Linked DNA regions of Homo sapiens: region 1 is linked to region 2. The links come from fine-mapping of genetic effects on gene expression. A gene starts in region 2. The other region holds a variant in brackets. All regions are shown on one strand. Distances are between the middles of the regions.

Region 1 (11,495 bases), 330 kb after region 2:
CTGGGAGAGAGGTCTGCAAGTCATCAGTACAGAGGTAAGGATGGAGGAACTCATGCAGGAAGCCTGTGGACACTGGTGTGATCCTTACTTCAGCCTATGCCCCACTGGGGAGGTAAAACCAACCAACCAACCAAACAAACAAACAAACAAACACTGATCCCTAGACAGGCTATGTGACTGCAAACACCCTTTCAATCCCGTCCCTCAGAGGGCTCCATCCCCCAAGCATAGCCTTGTCAACCTTGCCCCTCAGGATCCCCACCTATTAATTACAAGCTCCTCATGGAGCATAGAGGTGCCTTAGGGGATGTTCTCTGCCAATTAGAGCCACGGGTTGGGAAAGCTACTATGAATTGGGCTACTTCCACCTCCTCCCACTCTTGCAAAATGTGCTCTATAATCTTGCTCGATTCTAAACCCAGTGAGGCCTTCGCAATGCCCCATGCCCCTAGGCTCCGGAACCTCAGCAGAGGAGTGTAGGGGGTGGGTGGCAGCTGTCAGGAGCTGGTCTTGGCAACCCAGTTCCCAGGGCCTGTTGGAACTAGGAACAGGAGCAGGGCTGCTGAGATGGGGTGATAAACTCCCCATCAGAGGAGAGGTAATTGTTAACAGCAGAGTCTTTATCTGAGCTCTCACCTGTACAGGCACTGTGCTGAGCTTGTTACATCTATCATCATAACATCCCGAGGAGGTGGAAAGTTCCATTTTCCAGGTGACAACACAGAGACCTAAAGAAGTCAAGTGACTAACATAAGGATGAGAGAGAAAGTGGTAGGACCAGGATTCAAACATAGGTCTCTCTGACTCCAGAGTCCGTGTGCTTCACCTCTAGGCTCTGAGACTGGATGTGTGTCCAGCTGTTCTTCAAGCCAATTTCTTCCAGAGTCCCTGAAAATGGCTGGAAATGGCTCATTGTCATGGTGGAAGAGCCTGCTGATGGAGGAAATAAACCACTACCACAGCCACCATCATCAGAAACAACAACTCTATCACCATAGCAATTGGTGGTAGGATCATTTGAACCTGGGAGGTCAAGGCTCCAGTGAGTCTCAGCAGAGGAGTAGGGGGTGGGTGGCAGCTAGGGTTAGGGTTACGGTTAGGGTTAGGCCAGTCCAGTTGCTGAGGTGAAACGGCTGGGAAGCATCCTTCTCCCCAACAGCCAAATCATAAATCAACTCTGTTGTCTGTGCCTTCAAACATGTCCTGAACCTGCCCCATCTCCCCAGCTGCACTACCTCCCTCTCTAGCCTGGTCCATGGTGATGCCCTCTCACTGCCTTCCTGCTTTCCCCTCACGTGCCTTTCTGTATAGCCCCATGGAGTAGCCACAGTGATCCTTTACAGAACTCAGACCATTCCTCCTCCTGTTTAACACCCTCCTGTGCCTTCCAACCTACACAGAACAAAATCCATGCCTCTGGCCATGGCCTACAAAGTCCAGTGTGATCTGCCCTGTCCTGTTTCTCTATTGCTATTTCAGGCCACAGCTCCCTCTCTTATTCCACTCCAAGTACTCAAATCTTTTTACATTATTGAACAAGTCCAACTTTGCTCCTGCCTCAGGACCAGTGCACTTACTGTTCTCATGTCTTCCCCAGATCTTCATACAGCTGACTCTTGCCATTCAGTCCTCAGTTCCAATCTTATCCTCTCATCAACTCTCCCTGATGCCCCTAACTAAAGTGCCCCCCAGTAAGCTTCAGGCAGTCATCACCTTTAAAACATTTTGTTTGGGCTTTATTTGCATATTTCCTAGCTTCTCAACTAGATGCCAAGCTCCATGAGGTCATGGATTGTATCTTGTTCCCTGTGGTATCCCCAGCACCTCATACAATATCTGGCAAAAAGAGACACTCAGAAGCACTGATCAGGTAAATTAATTTGGGTTGATCTATACAGTCTCAAAGTTCCTGCTTCTATGGTTTAATCAGAATCTAAAGATTCTAGTTGTATTGTTTAACTTTCCACTTATTCATCTAATCATCTGTCCATCATCCACACATCCAACTGTCCATCCATCACCCATCCACCCACCTATTCAGTTATCCATCATCCATTTATCCAACCATTATCCATCCATCCATCCATATATCCATCCATGTACTTATCCTTCCATGCATCCTTCTAACCATACACATACACCTACATACCCATCCATCCAATGATTCTTAGCCCCCACTCTGTGCTTGGTGCTGAAGACCCAAGTTTAACCAGGACATGAAATCTATGCTAGAGAAACTCCCAGCCTTGTCCTCCTCTTCCCTCTGTTCCTTATACTGTGAGCTGCTCCAGGTAGGAACTGCATTAACCTTGTAGGCAGATGCAGGCAAAGTCCTAGGAGGCTGCTCCTGTTTGTAGATAGGTCTACACCTTCTTGGGACTTAGATTTAGACCTTCACCTCTTTCTTCTGTGCCCTGGTCACTGTTGGCTGTCCCCTGGGGCAGAGTCAACAAATTTATCCAGCTCTGAGGCTCCAGATATAAGGGATTTGAGGAGAAGACTCTGCCCCATCCTGAAGAGTCAGCTGAAGCATTTCAAAATTCAGAATGAAGTTCTGAGGGCCTGATGTGTGGTGTGATCTTTGTGCCACAAGACAAGAGGAAGGAGCAAGATAATGCCTGGGGTAGGCAAGAAGTCTTCCTGGAGGAGTTAGGGTTAGAGGTGGACCTAAAGGAAGGGGGCCTTGGGGAGGAGGAGTAAGGGTGAGAAGTATGATGCAAAGGCAGGGATGAGTGTAGTATGAATGTGGGCTGCTAGTGGGGAAGCACAATACTAGTACCCAATGAACTCCTACTCATCCTTCAACACCCAGTCCAAATGACCCCACTTGAGAAGGCTTTCCTAAACTGCCCACTCTCATCCTCCTATTCTCTTCAGACAGAGAGAATAATGATGGAAATGGTGATGCTAAAAATAATCATAACAGTTACTTAGCACCTTCCATGCCAGGCACAGTAACAAATACCTTGTGTCTATCATCTCATCTAACACTATAGCAGTTCACCATTGCACTACCTTATCCCCACTTTTCAGATGAGAAATTGAGGCTTAGGGTGAGTGGGTGGGTTTACATCTTCTTAGTTATAGAAGTTTCCTGACCTATCAGGGGGATTTATTTGTCTTCTGTCTCCCCTGCCTCCACTGCTCATATATACACACTGGAAGTGTCTATATATGCCCAACAGGGCAGGGACAATTTGATTATTTTCTGGGTCTTTGGAGGCCAGTAGAAGATGTGCCCTAGTGCAAGTCTTGTATGAATGTTGGATGGATGGAAGGATGGATGGTTGAGTGGATGAATGGATGGATGGATGGATGGATGAATTAGTGGATGGATGGGTGAATGGATGAATGGATGGATGGATGGATGGATGGATGGATGGATGGATAGATGTACTAGTAGATGGATGGGTACAAGGAGGGGTGGATGGATGAGTGGATGAGTCCGAAGGGTGGGTGGATGGATGGATGGATGGATGGATGGGTGGATGGATGGACCAATGGGTGGATGGGTGGGTGGATGGATGGGCGAATGAGTGGATGGATGGATGGGTGGATGGATGGATGGGTGGATGGATGGATGGATGGATGGATATGTGTGTGTGTGTGAATGAGTGGTTAGATGGATGGGGGGGATGGATGGATGAATGGATGGATGGATGGATGGATGAATGGATGCGTGGATGGACGAATGGATGGATGAATGGATGGATGGATGGATGGATGGATGGATGGATGGATGGATGAATGGATGGATGGATGGATGGATGGATGGATGGATGGATGGATGGGTGGATGGGTGGATGGATGGATGGATGGATGGATGTGTGGGTGGATGAGTGGGTGAATGGGTGGATGGGTGGGTAGGTGGCATATAGAAGCCCTACCATCTCTCTGAAGTTGTTGGTTTTGTGGTGCCTCAGTGTGGCCCATATGAAGACAGCTTCTTGACTGTACCAGAGCTGAGCAAGCGCTGGAGGCCACGTCAGCCCCTCCCATCTTCCCCCCCACACACCTCTCTCTCTTTCATGGTCATTCCCCAATTTGGCCTCCCATCCCATCTTCCTGTTTAGGGGCTCGGCTTTCCAGGGGATGCCCCCTAAACCAAACCTTCATGGCCCCCAACCCACTTGCAGATGCTGCTGGCTTTGACCTCCCACTCCTCAGCTTCCCCAGTCTAGCCCCCGACCCGGCCCCCACACCTCCCCAGAGCCAGCTCCTCTCCCCGCAGCTGTCCACACTTACAAAGCCAGGACTGTTCGATAAAGCCGTGCCAGCTGGAACAAGACACTTCCCGTCTGACGGGAGGTTCTGCATGGAGCCTGTGGGCAGCTGTCAGCGCGAGGGGCACAGGACCGGATCTGGAGGCTGTTCAGGGCCAGCGCCTCCCTTGGCCCCCTCAAGAGGGGCTCTGCTGGGCCTGGTCCAAGGTCCCAGAAAGGGCTTCTCAGACTGGGGGACCTGGAGTAGGGGTTTTAGCCTCCTGAACCCTTTGGGGCCCTCATACTCCCGTCCCTTTGGGATGCACAGGGGCAGCCTCCACACTGGAGCCTGGGAGCTGGTGACATTTGTTTGTTCTGCCCCAGGGCTCAGCCCACAGTGACCAGGGCACAGAAGGAAGAGGTGAAGGTCTCAATCTAAGACAGGCTGCTCGGTGTGGTCACCTGCAAGCCACGGTGGGCCACCAGGGAGGTCAGAGCAGAGGTAATGGCCAAGAGCAGCCCCAGGAGGAGGCTGCTGCATCCCTTCTAGAAAAATCATCTGCTGAATGTCTTTAGGGCAGCTGAGAAAGTCACTCCACCAGCCCTTTCTGCTTGCTCAAAGTCCACTAGGCAATTATTCCACAACTATTTCTTGAGCACCTAGTACATGCCAGGCATGGGGACACAGGCCTGAGTTCCAGCCCTCATAGAGGCTGCATTCCCACAGCCAGCCTCTACCTTCCACTCCCCCAGGCCCAGCCTGCCCGGAGCTGTGCACCAGGCCTGGACCCAGCCTGGCAGAGCCCCTGCCTTCTCTGGCTCTGACTCCTTCTATAAGGCTCTAATTACATCCTGGGAGAAACAATTAGAATGAAACTATGGGTTGTTTTTTTTTTTTTCTCCCCCCTGCCCCGCCCCAAGCTGGGCCTGTTTAATAACTTAATTAAATAAACAGAATTATAATTATAATGTTAATATTTCCTTTCTGTAATGCCGGCACATTCTGCTGGAAGAAGCTTCTCTTGGGAATGGGAGTGTCCCACAGCCCCCAGCACCTCCCCAGTCCAAGGCTGGCTGCCCACCGGCCTCCCTGCTAGTGCCTCAGCCTGGAGCCCACCCGGTTCTGGGACTCAGCAGAGTTGGCAGGAAACCAGCCGGGGGGGAAACAGCCGCGTTCTCTCCTTCCTGAGTGTTTACAGTCGAGCTCAAACCACACGATGAAAATTACTCTGAAGCTCCTAATTGCACATTTCCTTCCTCTAACCATTTTCTTTTGACAGTTGACTTTGAAAACATTTACCACTTAATTCTCCCGAGGCGGGAAGGAGGGAGAAGGAAGGAGGCTGCCCTGCTAGTGAGAGCTAGCCTCCCTGGAGGGGCCAGGCTTGGAGCAGGCGTCCTCACTAGCAGGGTCCCTGGGGTCCCAGGCTGGGGAGAGTCTTGCCTCTCCTCGCGTCCTCACTAGCTAGGCGACCTGGAACAAGTCAATATTGCTTCCTTGAGTCTCATTTCCTCATCTATAAAATAAGATGAAGAATATTCACTTTGCAAAGTAATGCTATGAGATCAGCCAGCACTTAGTAGGTGCTCAATAAATGTTAGATCCTTTCCTCCAGGCTTCTTGGAAAAACACAGTCCCTGAAGGCAGAAGTCTCCCAGCTCTTATTTCCTCTACACAGTGTGGTGTGGAGAAGTTCAGAGCAGCGGTCTGGGTTCACACACGAGCTTGGCCTCCACCTAGCAGAGCAGTGGGGTCTGGGAAAGCAGCTTGCTTTTTGTGACTCAGTTTCCAGGTCTGTAGGAAGGAATAGTGACAGTGCCTACATCACTGGGTTGCCTGGAGGATTCTGTGACTTATGGGAAAGTATGAACAGGAAACAAAGGATGGCTCAGCAAGGGCTGACAACTATCCGCATGGGTCACTCTGCAGGTGGCTGGACCGAGACAAAGTTGGATTCTAGTCTTGGACACTCTTGTGCTGGGAAAGTCCCTGGTTTCAGGGGCTTTCTGTGTCCCTGCTGTGAAATGGGTA[C/T]GCTGACTCACAGGCTTGCCACAAGGCATGGGGAGGTAGTGGGCAGGAGGCCCCAGTGGGAGGCCTAGCCAATGGCAGGGAGCAGCCACAGTCTTGTCCCAAAGCTAGGAGCCCGAGGAGCCTTTGTCCCAGAGACAATGAAAGGTGGGGGCTGTAGCATCAATAGAGACACCTGTCGGTACTACAGCCACAGTCAGCGGAAGGGAGCACTCGGCGTGGCCAAGAGCGAGACTGGGACCTCTGTGCCCACCCTGCCCAAAGGCAGCAAAGAACCCCCCGGCTCAGGACTCCCCTCCACCCCCATCCATGCCTAGGCTCTGGAGCAGGTGGCCTGGCTTTGCCCCCCTCGCTGTGTGGCCTCAAGCAAGTGACCGAACTGTTCTGAGCTTCCACCTCCACGTCTGCAGACTGGGACTAATCTGGGTTACTGGGAGGACTGGCAAGTTAATACATCACCCAGGGTCTACTGGATCACACAGTAGGCACTCACTGAATGTTGGCATAATGTCCAGGACTGTTATTCATTCCTTCCCAAGCTCTGTGCCACCCCTGAATGGTCCTGGAGCTGACAGAGACAGAACAGCCCCTGGCACTTGCATCCAGGCCAAGTCAGGACCTGGTTTCTGCACCCCTACGGCCCAGACACCCATGTCTCGAGACCCAGTTCTAACGTACCGTCCTCTTGGAGCCTTTCCGCAGGCTTCCTTTCCACATTATACTCATGCCGGGGGCCCACGGGGCTCAGATCCCTGGAGTGCAGGGACAATGGACTTATCTTTGTGGCCCCAGTGCCGTCCTCCTAGTCTTTTCCCACATGCTGTGGGAAGACACAAGGAGATTGGGAGAGGCCGAACTGAGAGCTGGAACGAGACTTAGAAGCACTCACACCAGTGTGCAAAGGGCCCACATTGGCTGGACAGAGACCACCTGCTCGTACCGTGCAGAGCCAAAGGCAGAGAGGAACATAGGGACGGCAGTGGAGATATGGAGAAGGAGACGGATTTGAGAGTCGTGGAAGGAGGTTACAATGATGGAATGAAGCAGAAGAATCTAAGAGCCTGATTCAAGAGATACAAGGGACAGGAATCCCCAGAAGGACGTGTGACACCCATGTGTGAGGCTTGGCCCCATTCCATGAGATGGGGACAGCCCATGGAGGACCAGGATAGGGGCAGGGAGGCCATCCCGTTTGGTTTAGGCCATGTTTGGCTGGGAGCATTTCAGGTGAGAGTCACTGCTCCTCCTCTCTTCATGGGATCACACAGAGAGCCACAAGCAGAGCTGGGAGAAGGATCTGGTCTCCCTTTCCCCCTCATGTGAGTCTAAGACTGTTTCCAGCCCTCCCTGTGGTTTTCCAAGAGGACACTGAGTGGACCGAGTCCAAAGAGGAATGTTCCCTTGAAAACACGCATCCTCTCAGCTGTTTTCCTCTAGAATCATCAGCAAGAGCCCAAAATCCATACATTGTTTTCTGGTGAAAAATAATAGCAATCCTGTCCTGGTTGCCAAGTCTGTGAAATCATGAGCAGCAGACAGGGGACCTCTGGAGCATTCCCAGCGAGCCAGGTGCCAGCAGCCCCCTGTGGCCCTGAGGGCAGGTGCTGCGGGCGGGAGGGTCCGTTAGGGGCCAGCTGGGCCTGGAGTGGAGGCCATAGCCCTCTCTCCTCCAGACACCTGCTTCTGGAGGGACCTTGCCCCCTCCATGCTGAAGTCACTATGTGAATACTAGGACCCCCAGAATTTTTCTCTGGCCAAGATCTCCCCTGAGCCCGGAGCTGCTAACCCAGCAGCTCAAGGCTTCTGCCTCACCCGTGGGAGTCTCTTAAGCAGCTCAACCTCAGTGTGCCCCAAAAGGAACCCACCTCTTTGCCTTCCTTTCTCCAGGTCCCTCTCCTGCTTCCAGTTGCCCCAGCTGCAAACCTGGGAACACATTGAGACCCAGGTCACTGAGCTGCATGTAGTCTCCCTCCTTGAGCTCTCACATCTGCCTCACGCCTCCCACCCCACACTAGCCTCTGCCCAGATAGCTGCCACCACCCCTGACTCACCCGGCAATCTGCCCTCCTTCTATCAGAAAAGGGGTCTTTCAAACAGGATCCGGACAATGCCACCTCCTGCTCCAGTGCACTTCAGGCCACTCCCAGTGGCCCATCAGAACCCCCCACTCACCCCCTCCGCCTGCTTCAGGCCCTGCCTGGGGGCCCCACAGCCACCCACCCCCACGGGACCTCCAATCAGGCCCAAGGCACTCATCACCAAATCTGCCCCAACCTGCATGTCGGCCATGTTTGCAAGAGCTGTTCCCACTCTCAGAATGGTCTTCCCACTCCCCGACCCCAGGGGAAGCTGAGTTGCACCCCCGTCATAGCCCAGGAACCTCTTCCCTGGGATGCATCCCCATCCCCTCCTCCCAGGGCATCCCTGGAGCAGCCCGTATCCCAGGTGCTGCCTGGCGGGCTCCACTTCCCGTGCTAGGTGGCACACTGTGCACCTAAGGCAGTGGGAGCCTTTGGAAAGCTGGGACTTACAGTCACATCTAGCTGGGTTCAGACCCGCAGGAGCAAGAGCCAGGCAACCTCAAGCAGGCCTCGTGGCTGCAGCTTCTGCACATATACAATGTAGGAGACCGCATGACCCAGCCCACAGGGCTACTCCCGCCTTCACCCTACATGGCTTGTTGGCATTCCTATGACGTGCCAGGCATGGTTGTAGGAGTGGTGTGAGAGCAGGGAATGCACAGCCCAAATCCCTGCCACCCAGAAGCTGGCCTGCTCACGGACAGAGGCCCAGCATGTCAGATGGTGCCAAGTGCTCCAAAATATTGGGAGAGGCAACTATAAATAGGGGGCCAGGGAAGGCTCATTGTGCAGGCCTTCATTTGAGCAAAGACTTGAAGAAGAGGAGGAAGCAAATCACATGGGTGTCTGGGAAAGAGCGTCACAGGCAGAGGGCCCAGCCAGGGCAAAGGCCTGGGGTATCAGCTGCCCCAAAAGTATGAGCAGCTGCAGGGATGCCATAGCGGCTGGAGTGGAGGAACAGGGTCGGGAGAGGCAAGATGAGGTTGGAGGGGCAGGCCCGCAGAGGACTTTGCTGCCTCCTCTGAGATGAACCCTTGGAGGGTGAGCAGAGGAAGGGCAGGGTCGAGGCTCAGATGTTAACAGATCGAGGGCCATGGAGATGCCCCTGCAGGAAGCCAGGGCAGCTTGGACCAGAGAGGACTGGGGCTGTGGCAGGGAGTGGTCAGGTGTTGAATGCCGTGTGGAAGGGGTGGGGACATCACATGCTTTGCAGTGCTGTTGGCACGAGCTGTGCACTCGGGTGTGAGAGGGGTTTGTTTGGCCAATAACTGATTAAAATAACGAATCCACAAGACATGATAAAGAGGACGACGGCCAAGGCACAGAGGGTGTGGGAGACCCTCTTCCTGGCCAGGATGATGTGTGTGGACCTCCTGGAAGAGATGGCCTCTGAGCTGGGAGAAGGAAGATGGCTTGGACAATTTCGGGAGCATGTGATCCCCATGAGAGGAACAGAGGAAGCTTCCTATCCTGCCTCCTGCTTTGGCCAGTCCCAAACCCTCCTGGGCCTGGTTGGGCAGGACCCAGAACCTCCCCCCAAGGGACCGGGATGAAAGGAACAGCAAAGGTGGGCTGGGAGTCTCTCAGTGGTTAGCACAAGACCTGTAGCATTTCCCCCCACAACCCCGAGAGCTGGCCCCAGCTCTGGCCCCAGTGCTCATCTGGGCTGTTCTGCCACCTACATGGGCTGCGGGGCTAACTTGGGCCCCAGAATCACAGGCACAGGGCTGCCCCAGCACACCCTGGGGTGTAGAGAAGACAAGCGAGCTCCCTGAGCCTCAGTTTCCCCATCCAGAAAACGAGGGTATTGTGTTACATCTAAGCACGGAGGACCCCTCCTGCTCAACCTCGTTAGGGTTCTGTGGGAGCTGGCACTGTCTTCCAGCAAAGCCCCGCCCTCACCTGCTGGGGTGCCCAGAATTGCTACAGAGCTACTCTGCTTGGCACGTGAAGACCCTGTTGTCTCCATCAAATTGCAAATGTGTGACCTTCAATGAGCAGCCCGTTCATGTCCCAGCCCCTTTCCTGACACTGGTCCTGCCTGGTCCTTTGGCACTGATCAAAGACAGTGGGAAGGGGAAACCAAGTCCTAAGTTTTGAGGTTGGGGCCAAGGAAGGGTGATGTGAGGGAGCGCTGCACTGCCCTAGGTAAGACTCACCGTGAGCAGCAAAGGCAGCGAGTGGTATTGATGGGCTGCCCTCTGCCCACTGTGTTGTGCTGGGCACCATGGCACACTTCAGCAAGCATCCCCTGCATGGCAACCACTGGTCACTGCACTTCACAAAGGATGGAACCAAGGCCCAGGGAGGTGGCTTCTGCACAGGAGGAGGGGAGGGGACACTGGACCCCAGCGGGAGGACGTGAGGGCATTGGTGGTCCTGGAAGGACCTCAGTCTTCACTCCCCCACTGCTACCTGCTCTGTTTTCAGCCTGATTCTTTCTTCTTCAGGGCAAACATAGTCTCTAATAGCTTGGGCATTCGGGTGACTTGGGAAATCCTGCCAGGTTTCCCAAGACAAGAGCTAGGTTCTTATTGTTCTTGGGGACTCTAGCCCCCATCGTGGGGCAGGTGCACAGGGCCTCAGGAGTATTAGGGAATGGAGGGAGCAAGGATGGCCCTTATCTCGGGTGGCCAATGGTCACTGGGGCTTAGGCTGCTGAACAAGGTGGAGGGCAGGCACTTTGCGGATAGAAATGAATCTTTGGGGGCCAGACCCAAGGTTGGCTAGGAGACATGGCCTGTTGGCCTGGCCAAGGGGGCCCACTGTGAGGAGCTAGGGGCCCACTGGCTTCTGAACCAGTGCATTCTCACTCAACTGGCTGCTTTTATGAGCCCTGGACTCTGCAGCCAACTTCCCGGCAGCAAAGTGAAGGGGCATCCCCAAGCCACCTGCCAGCATCCGGCTCCTACTGGTGTGGTGGGAAGGAAGGAGACCCAAGCTCCTGGCCATCCCGCAGCACCCAACTCTGTGCCTGTGGGTCAGGCCCCTTACTACTCAGGGCCTCGATGTCTCCAACACCTGTTATTGGGGGCATTCCAGAAAGGAGAGAGTGTCCACATTGACTAATATCTATGAGAACTGAGAAGGCCCTGGGGGCATGCTGCCAAGAGTCCAGCTTTCTGCCAAGCCAACATAATTCAAAAGGTCGTGTGTCCTTCTGGGCAAGGTCCACACTGGGAG
Region 2 (11,495 bases):
GCCGATGACAAAAACACTTTTCTGGGCCGTCTGATGTAGCCCAACAATTCCAGTGACTTCCCAAGTAAGGGAAGAGGTGTGGGGTTCCTAGCACCAGTCACCATGGGACACCCCTGGAGGACTGGGCCGGGAGCCGGGCCCCAGGAGGGAGCAGCTTTCCCAAGAGGGCACCAGTGCCCTCACCTGGGGCTTCCTGGGGACTGTCCCGCACATCTGGGCCCACTTCCAAGAGGGACACCAATCTAGGGCGGCCCATCAGCCTTTGTGGTCTGCACAAAACTCCCTCTGGTCACTGCCAGATACTGGGCTCATCCGCCTGCCAGGCTGCAGTAGTGGGCGTCTCGGGGCCTCTGTGACTGACCTCCTAGACAAACAGCAGACTGGCTCTTTCCACAGAGAGCCCTGCCACCAATTACGTCCTGGTTTGTGGCGGGGAATGCCGGCCTCCCCTCCTCAGGGCAGTCATGCGCCTACCGTGGACAGGTGGGCCAGTGTGGGATGTGCCTCTTGGCCTGGCCCCCACCCCAGCGGAGCCTGGGGGCAGCCTTTTGTCACACCCACGAGGAATTCTGCACAGGAACCAGGGGCCCTGGGCTGGGAGCCGGACGTCGGCAGGGATGAGTGTGGCATCTTTGTCGGCCCCATCGCCTCATCTCGCGCCACTGAGCGCCCGGGAACAAGGGGGGTCGGGGGAGCTGAATGGGAGCCGACCCAGGCACAAAGGGAGAGGGGCCCCCACGGGCCGCCAGGGGTGTGGCGGCCCATCCGAGACTTCATCCCGAGAGAATAAACAACTTCGGCCTTGTTAAAGAGAGGGCCGCCGGCGAGGGGCCGGGAAGAAAGGCAGCCACCCTGAAGGGGAGACAAAGCCGGCTGCTGGGCGCCGTAACAACTTAGAAAAAGAAATCCTTAACGAGCCGAGCCACCTCTTTTCCCCTTTAAATGGGAGCAGTTCCACCCAGTCTGAGAGCCGGGAGCCATGAATGAAAACCTTCTCATTGAGGCAAATCAGAACCGCACACAGAAACCGCTTCTGCAGGGAGCGACAGGTTCTAGCTGGCTCCGCACCTTGTGCACCCCCCCGTCTCCAGGGGCACACACAGCGTGGAGTCACTGGGGCCACGTTGTTTCAGAAGCTCGTGCCCCCACCCCAGTGTGTGGTGCTGTCTGTGCTTAGATTAGGAGCCACCCAGAATTAGACACCAAAGCTCCAGGATTTGACCCTATCCGCTGCCTGGTTGTAAAGGGAAGTGACAGCTGTCCCGGAAGCTCCTTGGCACTGGACGTTCCTCACCTGGCCTCCCACGGAGCCAAGGGCGCACCTGCCCTGAAACCCCCATGCGTGAGTGTATGCAGCATGTGCACACCTGCTGGGGACCTGGGGCCAGGAATGCCTAGTGCAGGGAGAACACCCAGCATCACCTTTAAATGTAACCTTTGCCACGTGGAGGGCAAAAACACCTTCCTAGACTCTTTCCCACGCCTCCACCTCCTTCAACCTGTTTCTGACTTTAAGCAGCCGTAAGTCACTCTTGTCTCCACAGATGTCCAGCAGGAACAAGGCACTGGCTGCTCAGTTACGTTCCATGGGGTGGCCACGGGTCAGGACCCGGAGCACTTTGCAGGGGTGGGTCCCCTGGTCTCCTGCCCCTCCCTCGGGACCCACCCTGGAGTGGACTCCACAGTCACTGAGAGCACGTGCACAGCTGGGTCCCCAAGTGTCCCTCCTCCTTCACCCACCGCTGGGGGCGCCTTCGCAGACAAAGGGTGTGCAGTAGTGGGAAGGACGAGAATCTGCACCTGCCCACTGCCTCCCACTAGCACCCAGGGGTCCTGGGAGGGGAGCTCCACTGCTGGAGCCACCCTGTAGGGAGGCTGTGCAAGAACCACGCCCCACGTTCTCTCCAGGAAACTTTGCATTTCTCTGAAGCCACTTTCAGCTCCATAAAAGGCTGTCTGGAGTCTCCGGAGGCCTCTCTCCTCTGAGGAGCACCAGCCAGAGAATGCCTCCCTGTCTGCCGCATGCCCCCCCACCCCAGACCCATCCAGACTGGTCGACATCCTTGGCATCTTCATCTGCCCACCTTGGGGACTCGCTTGGAAACGTGGGGGAGGGGTTCATGCCCCAAGCAGGTGGAGGAGGTGGGGGAGGCCTCACGCCTAAACCAGAACCCATTCTGGAATACCGGCTGCGGGCTACCGGTGTCAGAAGGGAGCTCTGAAGTAGGCTTGGGGGGCTCTGCCCTCTGGGGAGGGGAGAAGATGCTACTGCCTCTTTGATGCCCCGTGGGCCTTGTGGCCTAGGTCACCCAGAGTGAGCCCCCAAACAGATGTGACAACTGAGGCTTGACCAAAGGTGGGCCACAGCAGAGCTGGGTGGGATGGGGCCATGCTCCCCCATGAAGGTAACCAGGCCTCCTGGGCCAGGGAAGGAGGCGGTCACAGGGGGGTCAGAGGCAGGGCTGGGGACAGCAGGAGGCGGCACCCTGTGTATGTGCGAGTCTGTCCCCACTGGGTTCTGGGGCCAAGGCCATGTCAGGGAGGGGCCTCTGGGGCCATGCCAGGGGAAGTGAGGACTGGGTGCTTCTGCTGCCCACGGTGGCGGCCCAAGCTGAGAGTGCTCTGAAGCGCCCCCTCAGGGCTCAGCTGAGCCCGGCTGGCTGCCGGCACCCCTGGCAGGGCCTCAGGCAGCCGAGCTCCTCTGCTGGACACCCCTGCACTCGGCTGCCCAGAGCACGTGGTGCAGGCAGGCCGACAGCTCTCCCCGCCCCTGGAGGCGCCTCTGGCAGGTGGCCCAGCCTGGGAGAGGCCAGGAGGGGGCCTCTGCAGCTCAGGCTCCTTAAGGACACAAGAAGGGCTGGAGGTGGGTGGAGAAAGGAGGCGGCCCTGTGGCCAAGGTAAACCCCTTTCAGCATGGAGTGGCCACAGGCTGCCTGGCCTGAAGGACGAGGCCAGAGTAACGGGACACAGGCAGGCTGAGCCGTCCACACCAATGCCCAAGGTACTGCATGGTGGCCGTGAGGGAGCAAATCTCCCTCCATCCAGCGCGACAAACAATCCAGGGCCTCTGCTCACCAGAGCTGGAAGAGCGCTCTCCAGCGCAGGAGGGGGTCTGGGGACATCTTCCCAGACAGCACCCAGGTGGAGAGCAAGAAGCCGGCCAGGGTCACCTAAGGAGCCGGCTCTCAAGGGGAGGCCGGGGGCTGCCGGGCCTGCCCTACCTGTGGCACAGAGGGCAACGAAGGTCTGCGCGTGTTTGCGGATGATCTGTTTGTTCTCCTCCGCCTCTGGCATTTTGGAGAGGAAGTGTTCAATGAAATCGTGCGGGGTCATTGCGGCCAGGTTCCACTTGAGCTTGTTCACCAGGAGCAGCTCCATTTGCTGCGAACACAGGGTGAGCGGCCATCAGGGGAGGTGCGGGCCAGCCCGGGGGCGCGGGGAAGCCGGCAGCACGGGGGCCGGGCCACGCCGCACCTCCGGCTCAGAGCACTGGCCCCTGCGTCTCGTGCGGTCCTGGATGTTGGAGGGGAGGGCTGGCGAATGCTGGGGACTCAAGGGAGCTGGGGCAACACGCAATCCCAGATCAAAACAGAAAAGGCGCCCGCCGCGTGAAAAGACTCTGCAAGTGGAAACAAAAAGACCTCCCACCACCTGGAACTGGAGGCTCAGCGCCGAGCGCGGCGCTCCTCGTGCAGCCGCTGGAGGGCGCGCGCCGCCCACTTTTCGGCCACACCGCGGGGCGCGAACGCGGTGGGAGTCGCAGGCAAGCGCACACAGGGCGGCGGGACGAGGGCGGCTAGGATCCCGCCCGCTCCCCGGACAGGGACGCCCGGCGGCGGGGCCGCCCTCCCTCGGAGGAGCAGATATGTCAGAGGCGGGCCGGCCGCCACCGCCTGCACCTTCCCCGGCCCCGTGGTCCTGCGTGCGGCTCGCGGGGGGCGGGGGGCGGCGGGGTCCAGTGGTTACCAGCAGCTCCTCGGGCCGGATGGAGTTGTCGGTGTAGATGCACAGCTTCTCGGCCGTCAGGGGGATGGTCTCCTTCATCTTAGAGGCCACGAACATGCAAGTGGCCCCCAGCAGCTGCAGGCGGCTCTTTTTCACGGGCTCCAGCGACAGGAAGCGGTCCAGGTAGTTCATGGCCAGCGGGAAGACCTCCTCCTCGCACTTCTGTTCCTCGCAGACCTACGGAGGCACGGGGCCCGTGACCGCCGCCGCCAGGTCGCGCCGCCCCCCCGCACGCCCCCGCACCCCCCATCGCGCTTGGCAGGGCCGCCAGGTCTGGAGGGCGCCGAGGGGTCGGGGCTGGGGGCGGCAGGAGCTTCCCGTGATGCGCCCCCTCCCCCGCGCGTCCCCAGTACCCACCCTCCCCGAAACTGAAAGGGAAAGTCCCCGCGAGGCTGGCACGGTGGGGGCGGGAGCGGGCACAGCTGGGCGGCGTGCGCGGCGGCGCGGGCTGCCGGCCCCCGGGACCCTGGCCCGCCCTGGAGCTCCGTGGTCCCTCTGACTGGGGGTCGACACCAACTGGGGTGCGGGGCCGCGGAACGGGCCGCGGGGTTGGGCGCCGCGCCTGCGAGACACAAAGGTGGCGTCCCAGGCCGCCGCGCCGCATTTCCCCAGACGTCATCTTTTCAAAAAATATTTAAAAATATTAAAAAAATAACTAAGTGCATAAAAAAACCCTGAAAATGACCCTCGGGCGACCCTTTACCCAGGCCGGGGGTTGGGAGTTCGTTACAGGCTCCGGGGGGAGCCCCAGGAATTCAAACTCCGGGGCCCCCCCTTCCCCCTGGGCGCGGGCGGCGTTTCCCTCTCGCAAGGGCACCACGCCGCACTTTCAAAAATTATTTTAAAATACTTGCGGGCCCCTCAGGCGCCCACCGAAGGTCTGAAAATGTGCTCCCAGGCCCCCGGCTCGCTCGGAGAAGGTCCTCCAAGCCGATATCCCTGCAGACGGGGATCAAGCCCTGGCGTCTTGGGGGCCACGCGACCTTGCAGCTCGCCGTGCTCTCCGGCCCAGGCTGCCCGTTCGGGGCGCCCCGGGACTCGCTGCTTGAACAAAGGCCCCCCCTTCCCTAGCGGCGTCCCCCCAAAACTACCCATGCCGCGTCCCTGCGCCCCTCCCGCGGGCTCCCGGCAGCCGCGCGGCCCTTAGCTGCGGCCCCAGCGCCCGGCGGCCGCTCCCCGCCCCCACCCTGCCCCCAATTATTAATAAACACTTTTGCTTTGCAATAAAAGAGCAAAGATGGCGCATAATACTGGCACGAGCGGCCCTTGCATACGTGTCCATGGATATTAATTTAAAAATCAAATCTATGCCCCCTCCCCCCGGAGTTGGCGGCTCCCGGCCGCTGAGGCGCAGCCGGGCTGGGGCGCAGGCGGGGGACACAAAGCGCACCCAGCCTGCCAGCCCGCACCCTCGGGCCCATTGGGGTGCCCCTGGCACTGGCTTCTCCCGAAGGCACCCCTCCCGGACCCCCTTCTCCCCTCCCACGAAACGCTACTTCTAGCACCCCCACCCCCACCCCTTCCTCCTTCAGAAAATACCCGCAATTTTTATTTTGAAAATACGGATCCCTAGAAACACCACGGCAAACTTCAAAGTTCTAGCGGGAGAGAAGGGAGGGGGGTGAGTAGCAAAGAAACGTGGGTCTGGGCAACAAGTTGCAGGGAAGTCTTAAGAGAGCCGCCCGAAGCCCCGCACCTCCAGCATCCAGGTGGCGACGATCTTCCGCATGGACGGCAGGACCTCCTTCTGCACACATTTGAAGTAGGACACCGAGGGCGCGCAGGTCTCCTCCGCCTTCAGCATGGCCCGCAGCACCCGGTCGTTGAGGAGGTTGGCATCGGGGTACGCGCGGCGGATGGTTTCCACTTCGCAGCACAGGAGCTGGTGTTCCATGGCTGGGGCTCTTCCTGGGCAGCTGGGGAGGGCTGTGGGTCCTGGCTGGGTCCGCGCTCGGCTCTCGCTTCTGCTGCCCCGCGCTCCCTCGCGCTCTTCTGCCCCTCGCCGGAGCGTGCGGACTCTGCTGCTCGCTGCTACTGCGCCGACAGCCCTCTGGAGGCTCCAGGACTTTGCAACTTCAACAAAACTCCCCTGTAGTCCGTGTGACGTTACTGTTGTTAAGCAAAGATCAAAGCCCGGCAGAGAATGGGAGCGGGAGGGGGGCGGGGGCGGGCGCAGGGGGAGGGGGCGCGGGCGCCAAACGCCGGGAGCAGCGAGGGGCAGAGCCCAAAAGCCATCCCTGAGGCGCCGCGCCTGCCCTGCGGCGGAGTTGCCCCTGTAGTCCGGTTTTCATAGAAATGCAAATCGCCCCGCTGCAGCCTTTCTCCCCGCCAGGGAAGAGGGGTGCAGGGGGCCCCGTCCGCCTCGAGTGGGTCCCCCGGGATTTAGGGGGTGAGGTGGAGGTGGCTCTGCAGTAGGGGACAACTAGGAAGGCCGGCAGGCCACACGCAGCCTGGGGAGACCACGAGAAGGGGTGACTGGGGCGCGGCGACACCCCATATCCAAGCCGGCAGAATGGGCGCATTTCCAAGAACGCCACGAGGGCACCCACGGGCGGACAGACGGCCAAAGAATCTCAGCGACTGCATCTTCTTTCATTTTCATTAACACGTGTAAATTGCAAGAACTAATTTAGCATGCAAGGACGGGGAGGACCGGGCACACAACCCCTGTGCAAGTTTCATTCCGGCGCACAGGGGCGTCGTTGCAAATGCCCAAGGGGGTAACCCTAAAAGTTAAAGGGATTTCAGCTTAGCATGCGCTCGCTCAAAAAATAAAATAAAATAAATGCCCGAAAATTCCAGCAGCAGCCCAAGATGGTGGCCAGCATTTCCTTCATCTTGTCCTTCTAGCCTGGAGACTCTTCGGGCTGCCTTCCTACCTTGACCAGTCGGTCCTTGCGGGGGTCCCCAACTGCACCCCCTCCCTTCCCGTGCCGGCAATTTAACCGGGAGAAACACACCTCTGAATGGAAAGCTGAGAAACAGTGATCTCCATTCTGACTCATTTTTTTTAATTAAAAAAGAAATTAAATTGCTGGAAATATTAGTCCCCTCTGCCTGGGACAAGACCACCGAAGGTTCCTAATTGGTTTTGTTGGGGGTGTAGACGTCCCTTCACCTTTAGAATTTGCCCTGGGACTGAATTCGTGAGCGTGAGGGGGCTGGCAGGAGCCGGCATAATTCAGAACAATTATCAATTAAACAAACGAGTGTACTGATCTGATTTTTAGCAAAATCGATAGGTGTTCGTGGTTACATGAGAGGGTCCCCAATATTATCGCAAACTTAAGCAGATGTAAATTAAAATACACAGTTTTTAAAATTACAGGTTCTGTCTCTTTGGTGCATTAAAAAATAAAAGGACATTTTACTGTCTTAACTTTTGTTTTTATTTTTACAGTACCTGCCCCAAATTAAGAAAACTGTTCATTTACTTCCTTTTGAATATAGTTCAGTGTCATCAAACCACCGTACCCTCTTAACAGTAAAAGCTCAAAGAAAACTGATAGAAAAAGCCCTCTCCCCTTCGCCAGGGTGCTCACAGCAAGATGCGACCCCCCCCACCCCCACCTTTCAGGGTGAATTCCTCCCGCGCCCCCTCCCCCGCCGGGAATTAGGATTACTAATATTCCGGGTCCTGGGGGGGTAATTACCCCCGGATTCCGCATGGGGAGCGATGGGTTGCCCCAGCAGGGAGCACCTACGGTCGTGCCCCCCCCCACTCCCCGAGCACCCACAATCGCGTTGGCCCCCGCATAGCCAAGCCTCAGAGCATCAGCCCGCGCACAAGGGCGGCCCAGCTGCTTTTTCATTCATAAAATCCCGACCCGGCGGCCGCCTGGATGATTTATGGGGCCCGGAGCTATCACCCGGCCTCTCCCATCCCGTGGGGCGAGGGGCCCCGAGCCCCGCGTGCGCCCTGGCCCAGCCCGAGGCGCGAAGCGGGCCGAAGTCGGCTAGGGGCAGCAGGGCATAAAGAGGCTCGCCCACTCCGGCACAACCGGCTCTGGGTCCAGGAGGGAGCTTCACCCCCCCATCCCGGGCGCAAGACAGAGGAAACTGGAATTAGCATGAGCCAATGGGGGCGCGGCGCTGTTACTAGGCGGACCGGGCAGATCTCGACTAGGAACTTCGTTGATTTCCCGGCTCAGGGACGAGCGCAAAATTGCAAGCCCGGTTAGCGAGCGTAAAGAGCCGTCCAGGAACCCGCGGGGGAGGCGCTGGAATTTGGGGCCCGGCGCTGGAATTTGGGGCCCGGCGGGGAGCGCCAGCTGCCCAGCCCCCACCTGGGGGAACCCTGCTTGGCGGCCCCCGGGTCCCCCGAGGGGGCCAATACCTCTGGGCTTTTGAGGGTCATTGCTTCAAGAAGCGCAGAGAAAGCATTTTGATTTTATTTTTTCCAAAGAGAAAAGCAACTTTAAAAAACTTTTCGGTTGCAGTTTTACTTTACACTGTCTTCTTAAAACCCACCACGAAGCAGGAACTGCGGATTCTGGGCTCATTTAAAGTGCTCTGTTCTTATTTCTTGGTGACCATTTGGAGACAAAGGGCAAGTGGCCCAGTCGGGAGGGTAACCACGTTGTTTGAAAGAAAATCCAAAATTAACTGAAATCACCTTCACGCTTTCCTCGCCCCCTGGCCCCCGCCCCGGTGACCGCGGCCTGGGCGGATGGTCGGTCAGGAGAAAGCGAATTCCGCTGCAGGCGCGTGTTCGCCACCGTCCCTGGCTGTGGGAACCTTCATTCAGGCGGGGGAAGGGAGCGCGTTCATTCAGGAACCGGCGCGCCGCGACGCAGACCCCGGGACTCAGCGCGGCTGCGCGCCGCGGGGCTCGGGGCTTGGGTTGGGGGCGGGTGGTGCAGGGACCAGTCCCGACCTTTCGCCAGCGACCTCCCGCACCCGCTTTTCCACCAGGGCGGCTGGCGGGCGGGCGCACCCAGGTGGGGTCACCTGCAGCCGCATACCTGGCGGCGACTTGAAAGGACTTGGCTCAGGCTCCGCGAGTTTTCCATTGTTAAGCCCTTAAGTCGCCCGGGAAAACGCTTCCGAAAGCCGGCCCCTGGGCTCCGAAGGCGCTCGAGCTCCCCTTCCCCCCACACTGCTTGCTTTTGGGGTGCGCGTGGCGGCCCACGTGCTATGGCAGCTCTGCTTCGCTTACGTAGCGCCGATCCCAGGCGCCCCAAAACTGCGAGGTGGGCCGGGGCGAACTCCGGCCCCAGTGCCCACCCGAGACAGCCACACGCTCGGCACATGGACAGCCGCACCGCCCCCCCCATCGCCCCAACCGCAGACGTGCGTTTCCGCTCCAGATCAATTAGTTTCAGCCACACACAGACCACCCTGCCACCGCCCCTCCCGTGCCCCAGTCGTCTGTCCGGCGGGCTGCGGGGAAACGAGACCCCTCCCCTAGCTCCGAGGGCTGCCGGCAAGGTGTGCGCTGGAGTTAAAACGCAAACCCAACAGGTAGGGGGGCGGCCCTGGCTCCAACGACGCATCTGGGATCCCGAGGCTGAAGGCGCAACTCTTGAGGGTTAAAGGCGATTCTAATTCCTCGACTCCCGCCCCTCAAAACGCATCGGCTGGTACCCTGAGCAATATGAACCCCCAAATCCACCAGAGATTCCCTGGCCTTCCGGCCCCAGCCCCTCTCAGACCAAGTGGTGGGGAGTAGGCGCCCAGATCGAGAAGAAAACCACTTCCGACCACAGGAGAGAAAGCTGGCTGGGGGTGACCTCGGAGGTCACGTTCGGCCCTCTCCCCCGCAGTCAGGCCTGGCCGCGGCCCACCCGAGGCTGAGCAGACCCCCGCGTCGGACGGAGACGCAGGGCTTCGCTGCGGGACTCGCGGGGCCTAGGAAACCTGCGGCGGCGGCTCGCGGGAGCCGGTTTTCCGGCGGAGGATCCGCGCTGAGGCCCTCGTGGGCTCCCACGGCATGCCCCACTCCGGAACTTGCCGCGCCCTCCCCCGCCCTTTCCGGAAGACTGCGGGGAGGACCCCGCATCCCCGCGCCTCTCCAGCTCGCTCCTCAATGCCCTTGGAACGCTTGAAAGCGCTTCCATCCCTCGCTTTGGCACTTGGGGGTGGGTGGAGGGACAGCGGGGTCGTTATTACGGGGCGCCTTAGAGTTCTGGTTATCCGGACACTCAACAAGCAGGGGAGGGGAGGGAAAGGGAGTTTTTTTCCAGGTGCGGGGAAACGGGTTGCGTACCTAATGCCCCGCGCCCTTCCCCTGGGGTCCCTGGAGCCCGTGCCTTAAGGGCTGGGGGCAGGACTCGGATTCGGACCCCTTAGGGAATTCTGGGTCCTCAGGGTCTGAGGGACTGATGGGCCGCGCTCGGTCCCCAAGCCCCTTCTGTGTGTTCACGCGGGGCACGACTTGCCCAGCGAGTTCTGGGCGGCAGGGCCAGGGCCGGGGTGCGGCTGGGAGAGGTGAGGGGAGGAGGCGAGAGCGCGCGCCGCCGGACCCTGGGCCGTGGCTCGGGAACCGCGCGAGGCCGCGCCGCGCATTCCGCGCATTCCCGCCGGGCCTCGGTTCCACCGCCACGTGGTTGCCCTGCGTCCGCGTTTACCGTAAGGCTTAGAAAAAGCGCGCATTACGGTTCCGGAGCGCATGCGGACCTCCCAGGACGCTTAACTCGAGCACCAGTCCAGCTGTGGTGCCGAACATACTCCTTCCCTGCGGGTAGATAGGGGCTGCTTTTTTACGTAATAAGGCGGGTTGTACTGCTGGAGCGATAGCATGTTCATCTGTAAAGACGGGCAGGAAGGAGTGTGCTCGGCCCTACTGGAATCCGTAATAAGGCGACTGTCCGGCTGAAGAAAGTGACAGAACCGGGCCGTGACCATTCCACCTTCTCAGCGGTGGTAAAGCACCAAATAGCAGCTGCAGCCTTCCGATGGCGTCCAGTGCACTGTGGCTGGAAAGCTCGGAGCAAGAAGGTGCTTAACAAATAGGAAAACGTCCAGAAACTGCCTATAGCTACATTTTATTTTTTTTTTCTTGAGGGTCACTTTAAGATAAAGAATCTAGTGCATCCCTGGACCCTGAGGCCGACCTTAACCAACAGGATGCCTGCCTGGGCTCATGAGGTTCAGGGCATGATTGGGGCCCCCTGAGACACAGGCTAGGTTGTGTTGCCTCCCCAGGCTTGGATAAGTCAGAGGAATCCTTAGGCCCCTCCTGGACCATCTCGCTGAATCCTGACTTAGAGAGCTGTCTCTGCTATCCTATGGGAGAGAGACAGGTTATGTGCCCTAGGGTGGAGGGGGCTGCATTGGTCCCCATGCTTCTAGACACACTTCTAGCCCTGAGCAGCACCAGTTCACCCAGTCTAAGGGAAGCATGGCCATTTGCTTTGAGGTCCATCTCCTGTAGGGTTTGGAGAAAAAGCCTTCACTCACCACCCATCCTCATCTTCTCACTTCTATGAGGTGTTTCCTCCAGCCAACTTATAGTTTCACACACTTAATCTCAGGGAAATGCGTTTAAT

Alleles and levels. Alleles are on the strand shown, and positions count from the first base shown. SD is a standard deviation of normalised expression in the study named.
As copies of C replace T in region 1, the expression in monocytes after LPS of the gene that starts at base 6,057 in region 2 goes down (large effect, 0.81 SD a copy in Quach 2016).

The links.
Region 1: its variant is fine-mapped to the expression of CCND1 in monocytes after LPS (Quach 2016, PIP 0.95).

What each region holds. Positions count from the first base shown.
Region 1 is chr11:69,306,067-69,317,561 of GRCh38, reverse strand. No RefSeq gene overlaps it. Among named protein-coding and RNA genes, the nearest start is that of MYEOV, 18 kb to the right of the region's middle. RefSeq lists enhancers at 6,114-6,343, 6,185-6,684. The variant C/T (reference allele first, on the strand shown) is at 6,235.
Region 2 is chr11:69,635,718-69,647,212 of GRCh38, reverse strand. CCND1 (cyclin D1) reads right to left here and starts at 6,057. Exons shown (of 5, transcript NM_053056.3): 1 at 5,702-6,057; 2 at 3,967-4,182; 3 at 3,222-3,381. The coding sequence starts at 5,899. RefSeq lists enhancers at 2,821-3,565, 5,084-5,786, 7,294-8,232, 8,233-9,173 and silencers at 3,782-4,041, 4,172-4,231, 4,322-4,461, 8,986-9,189.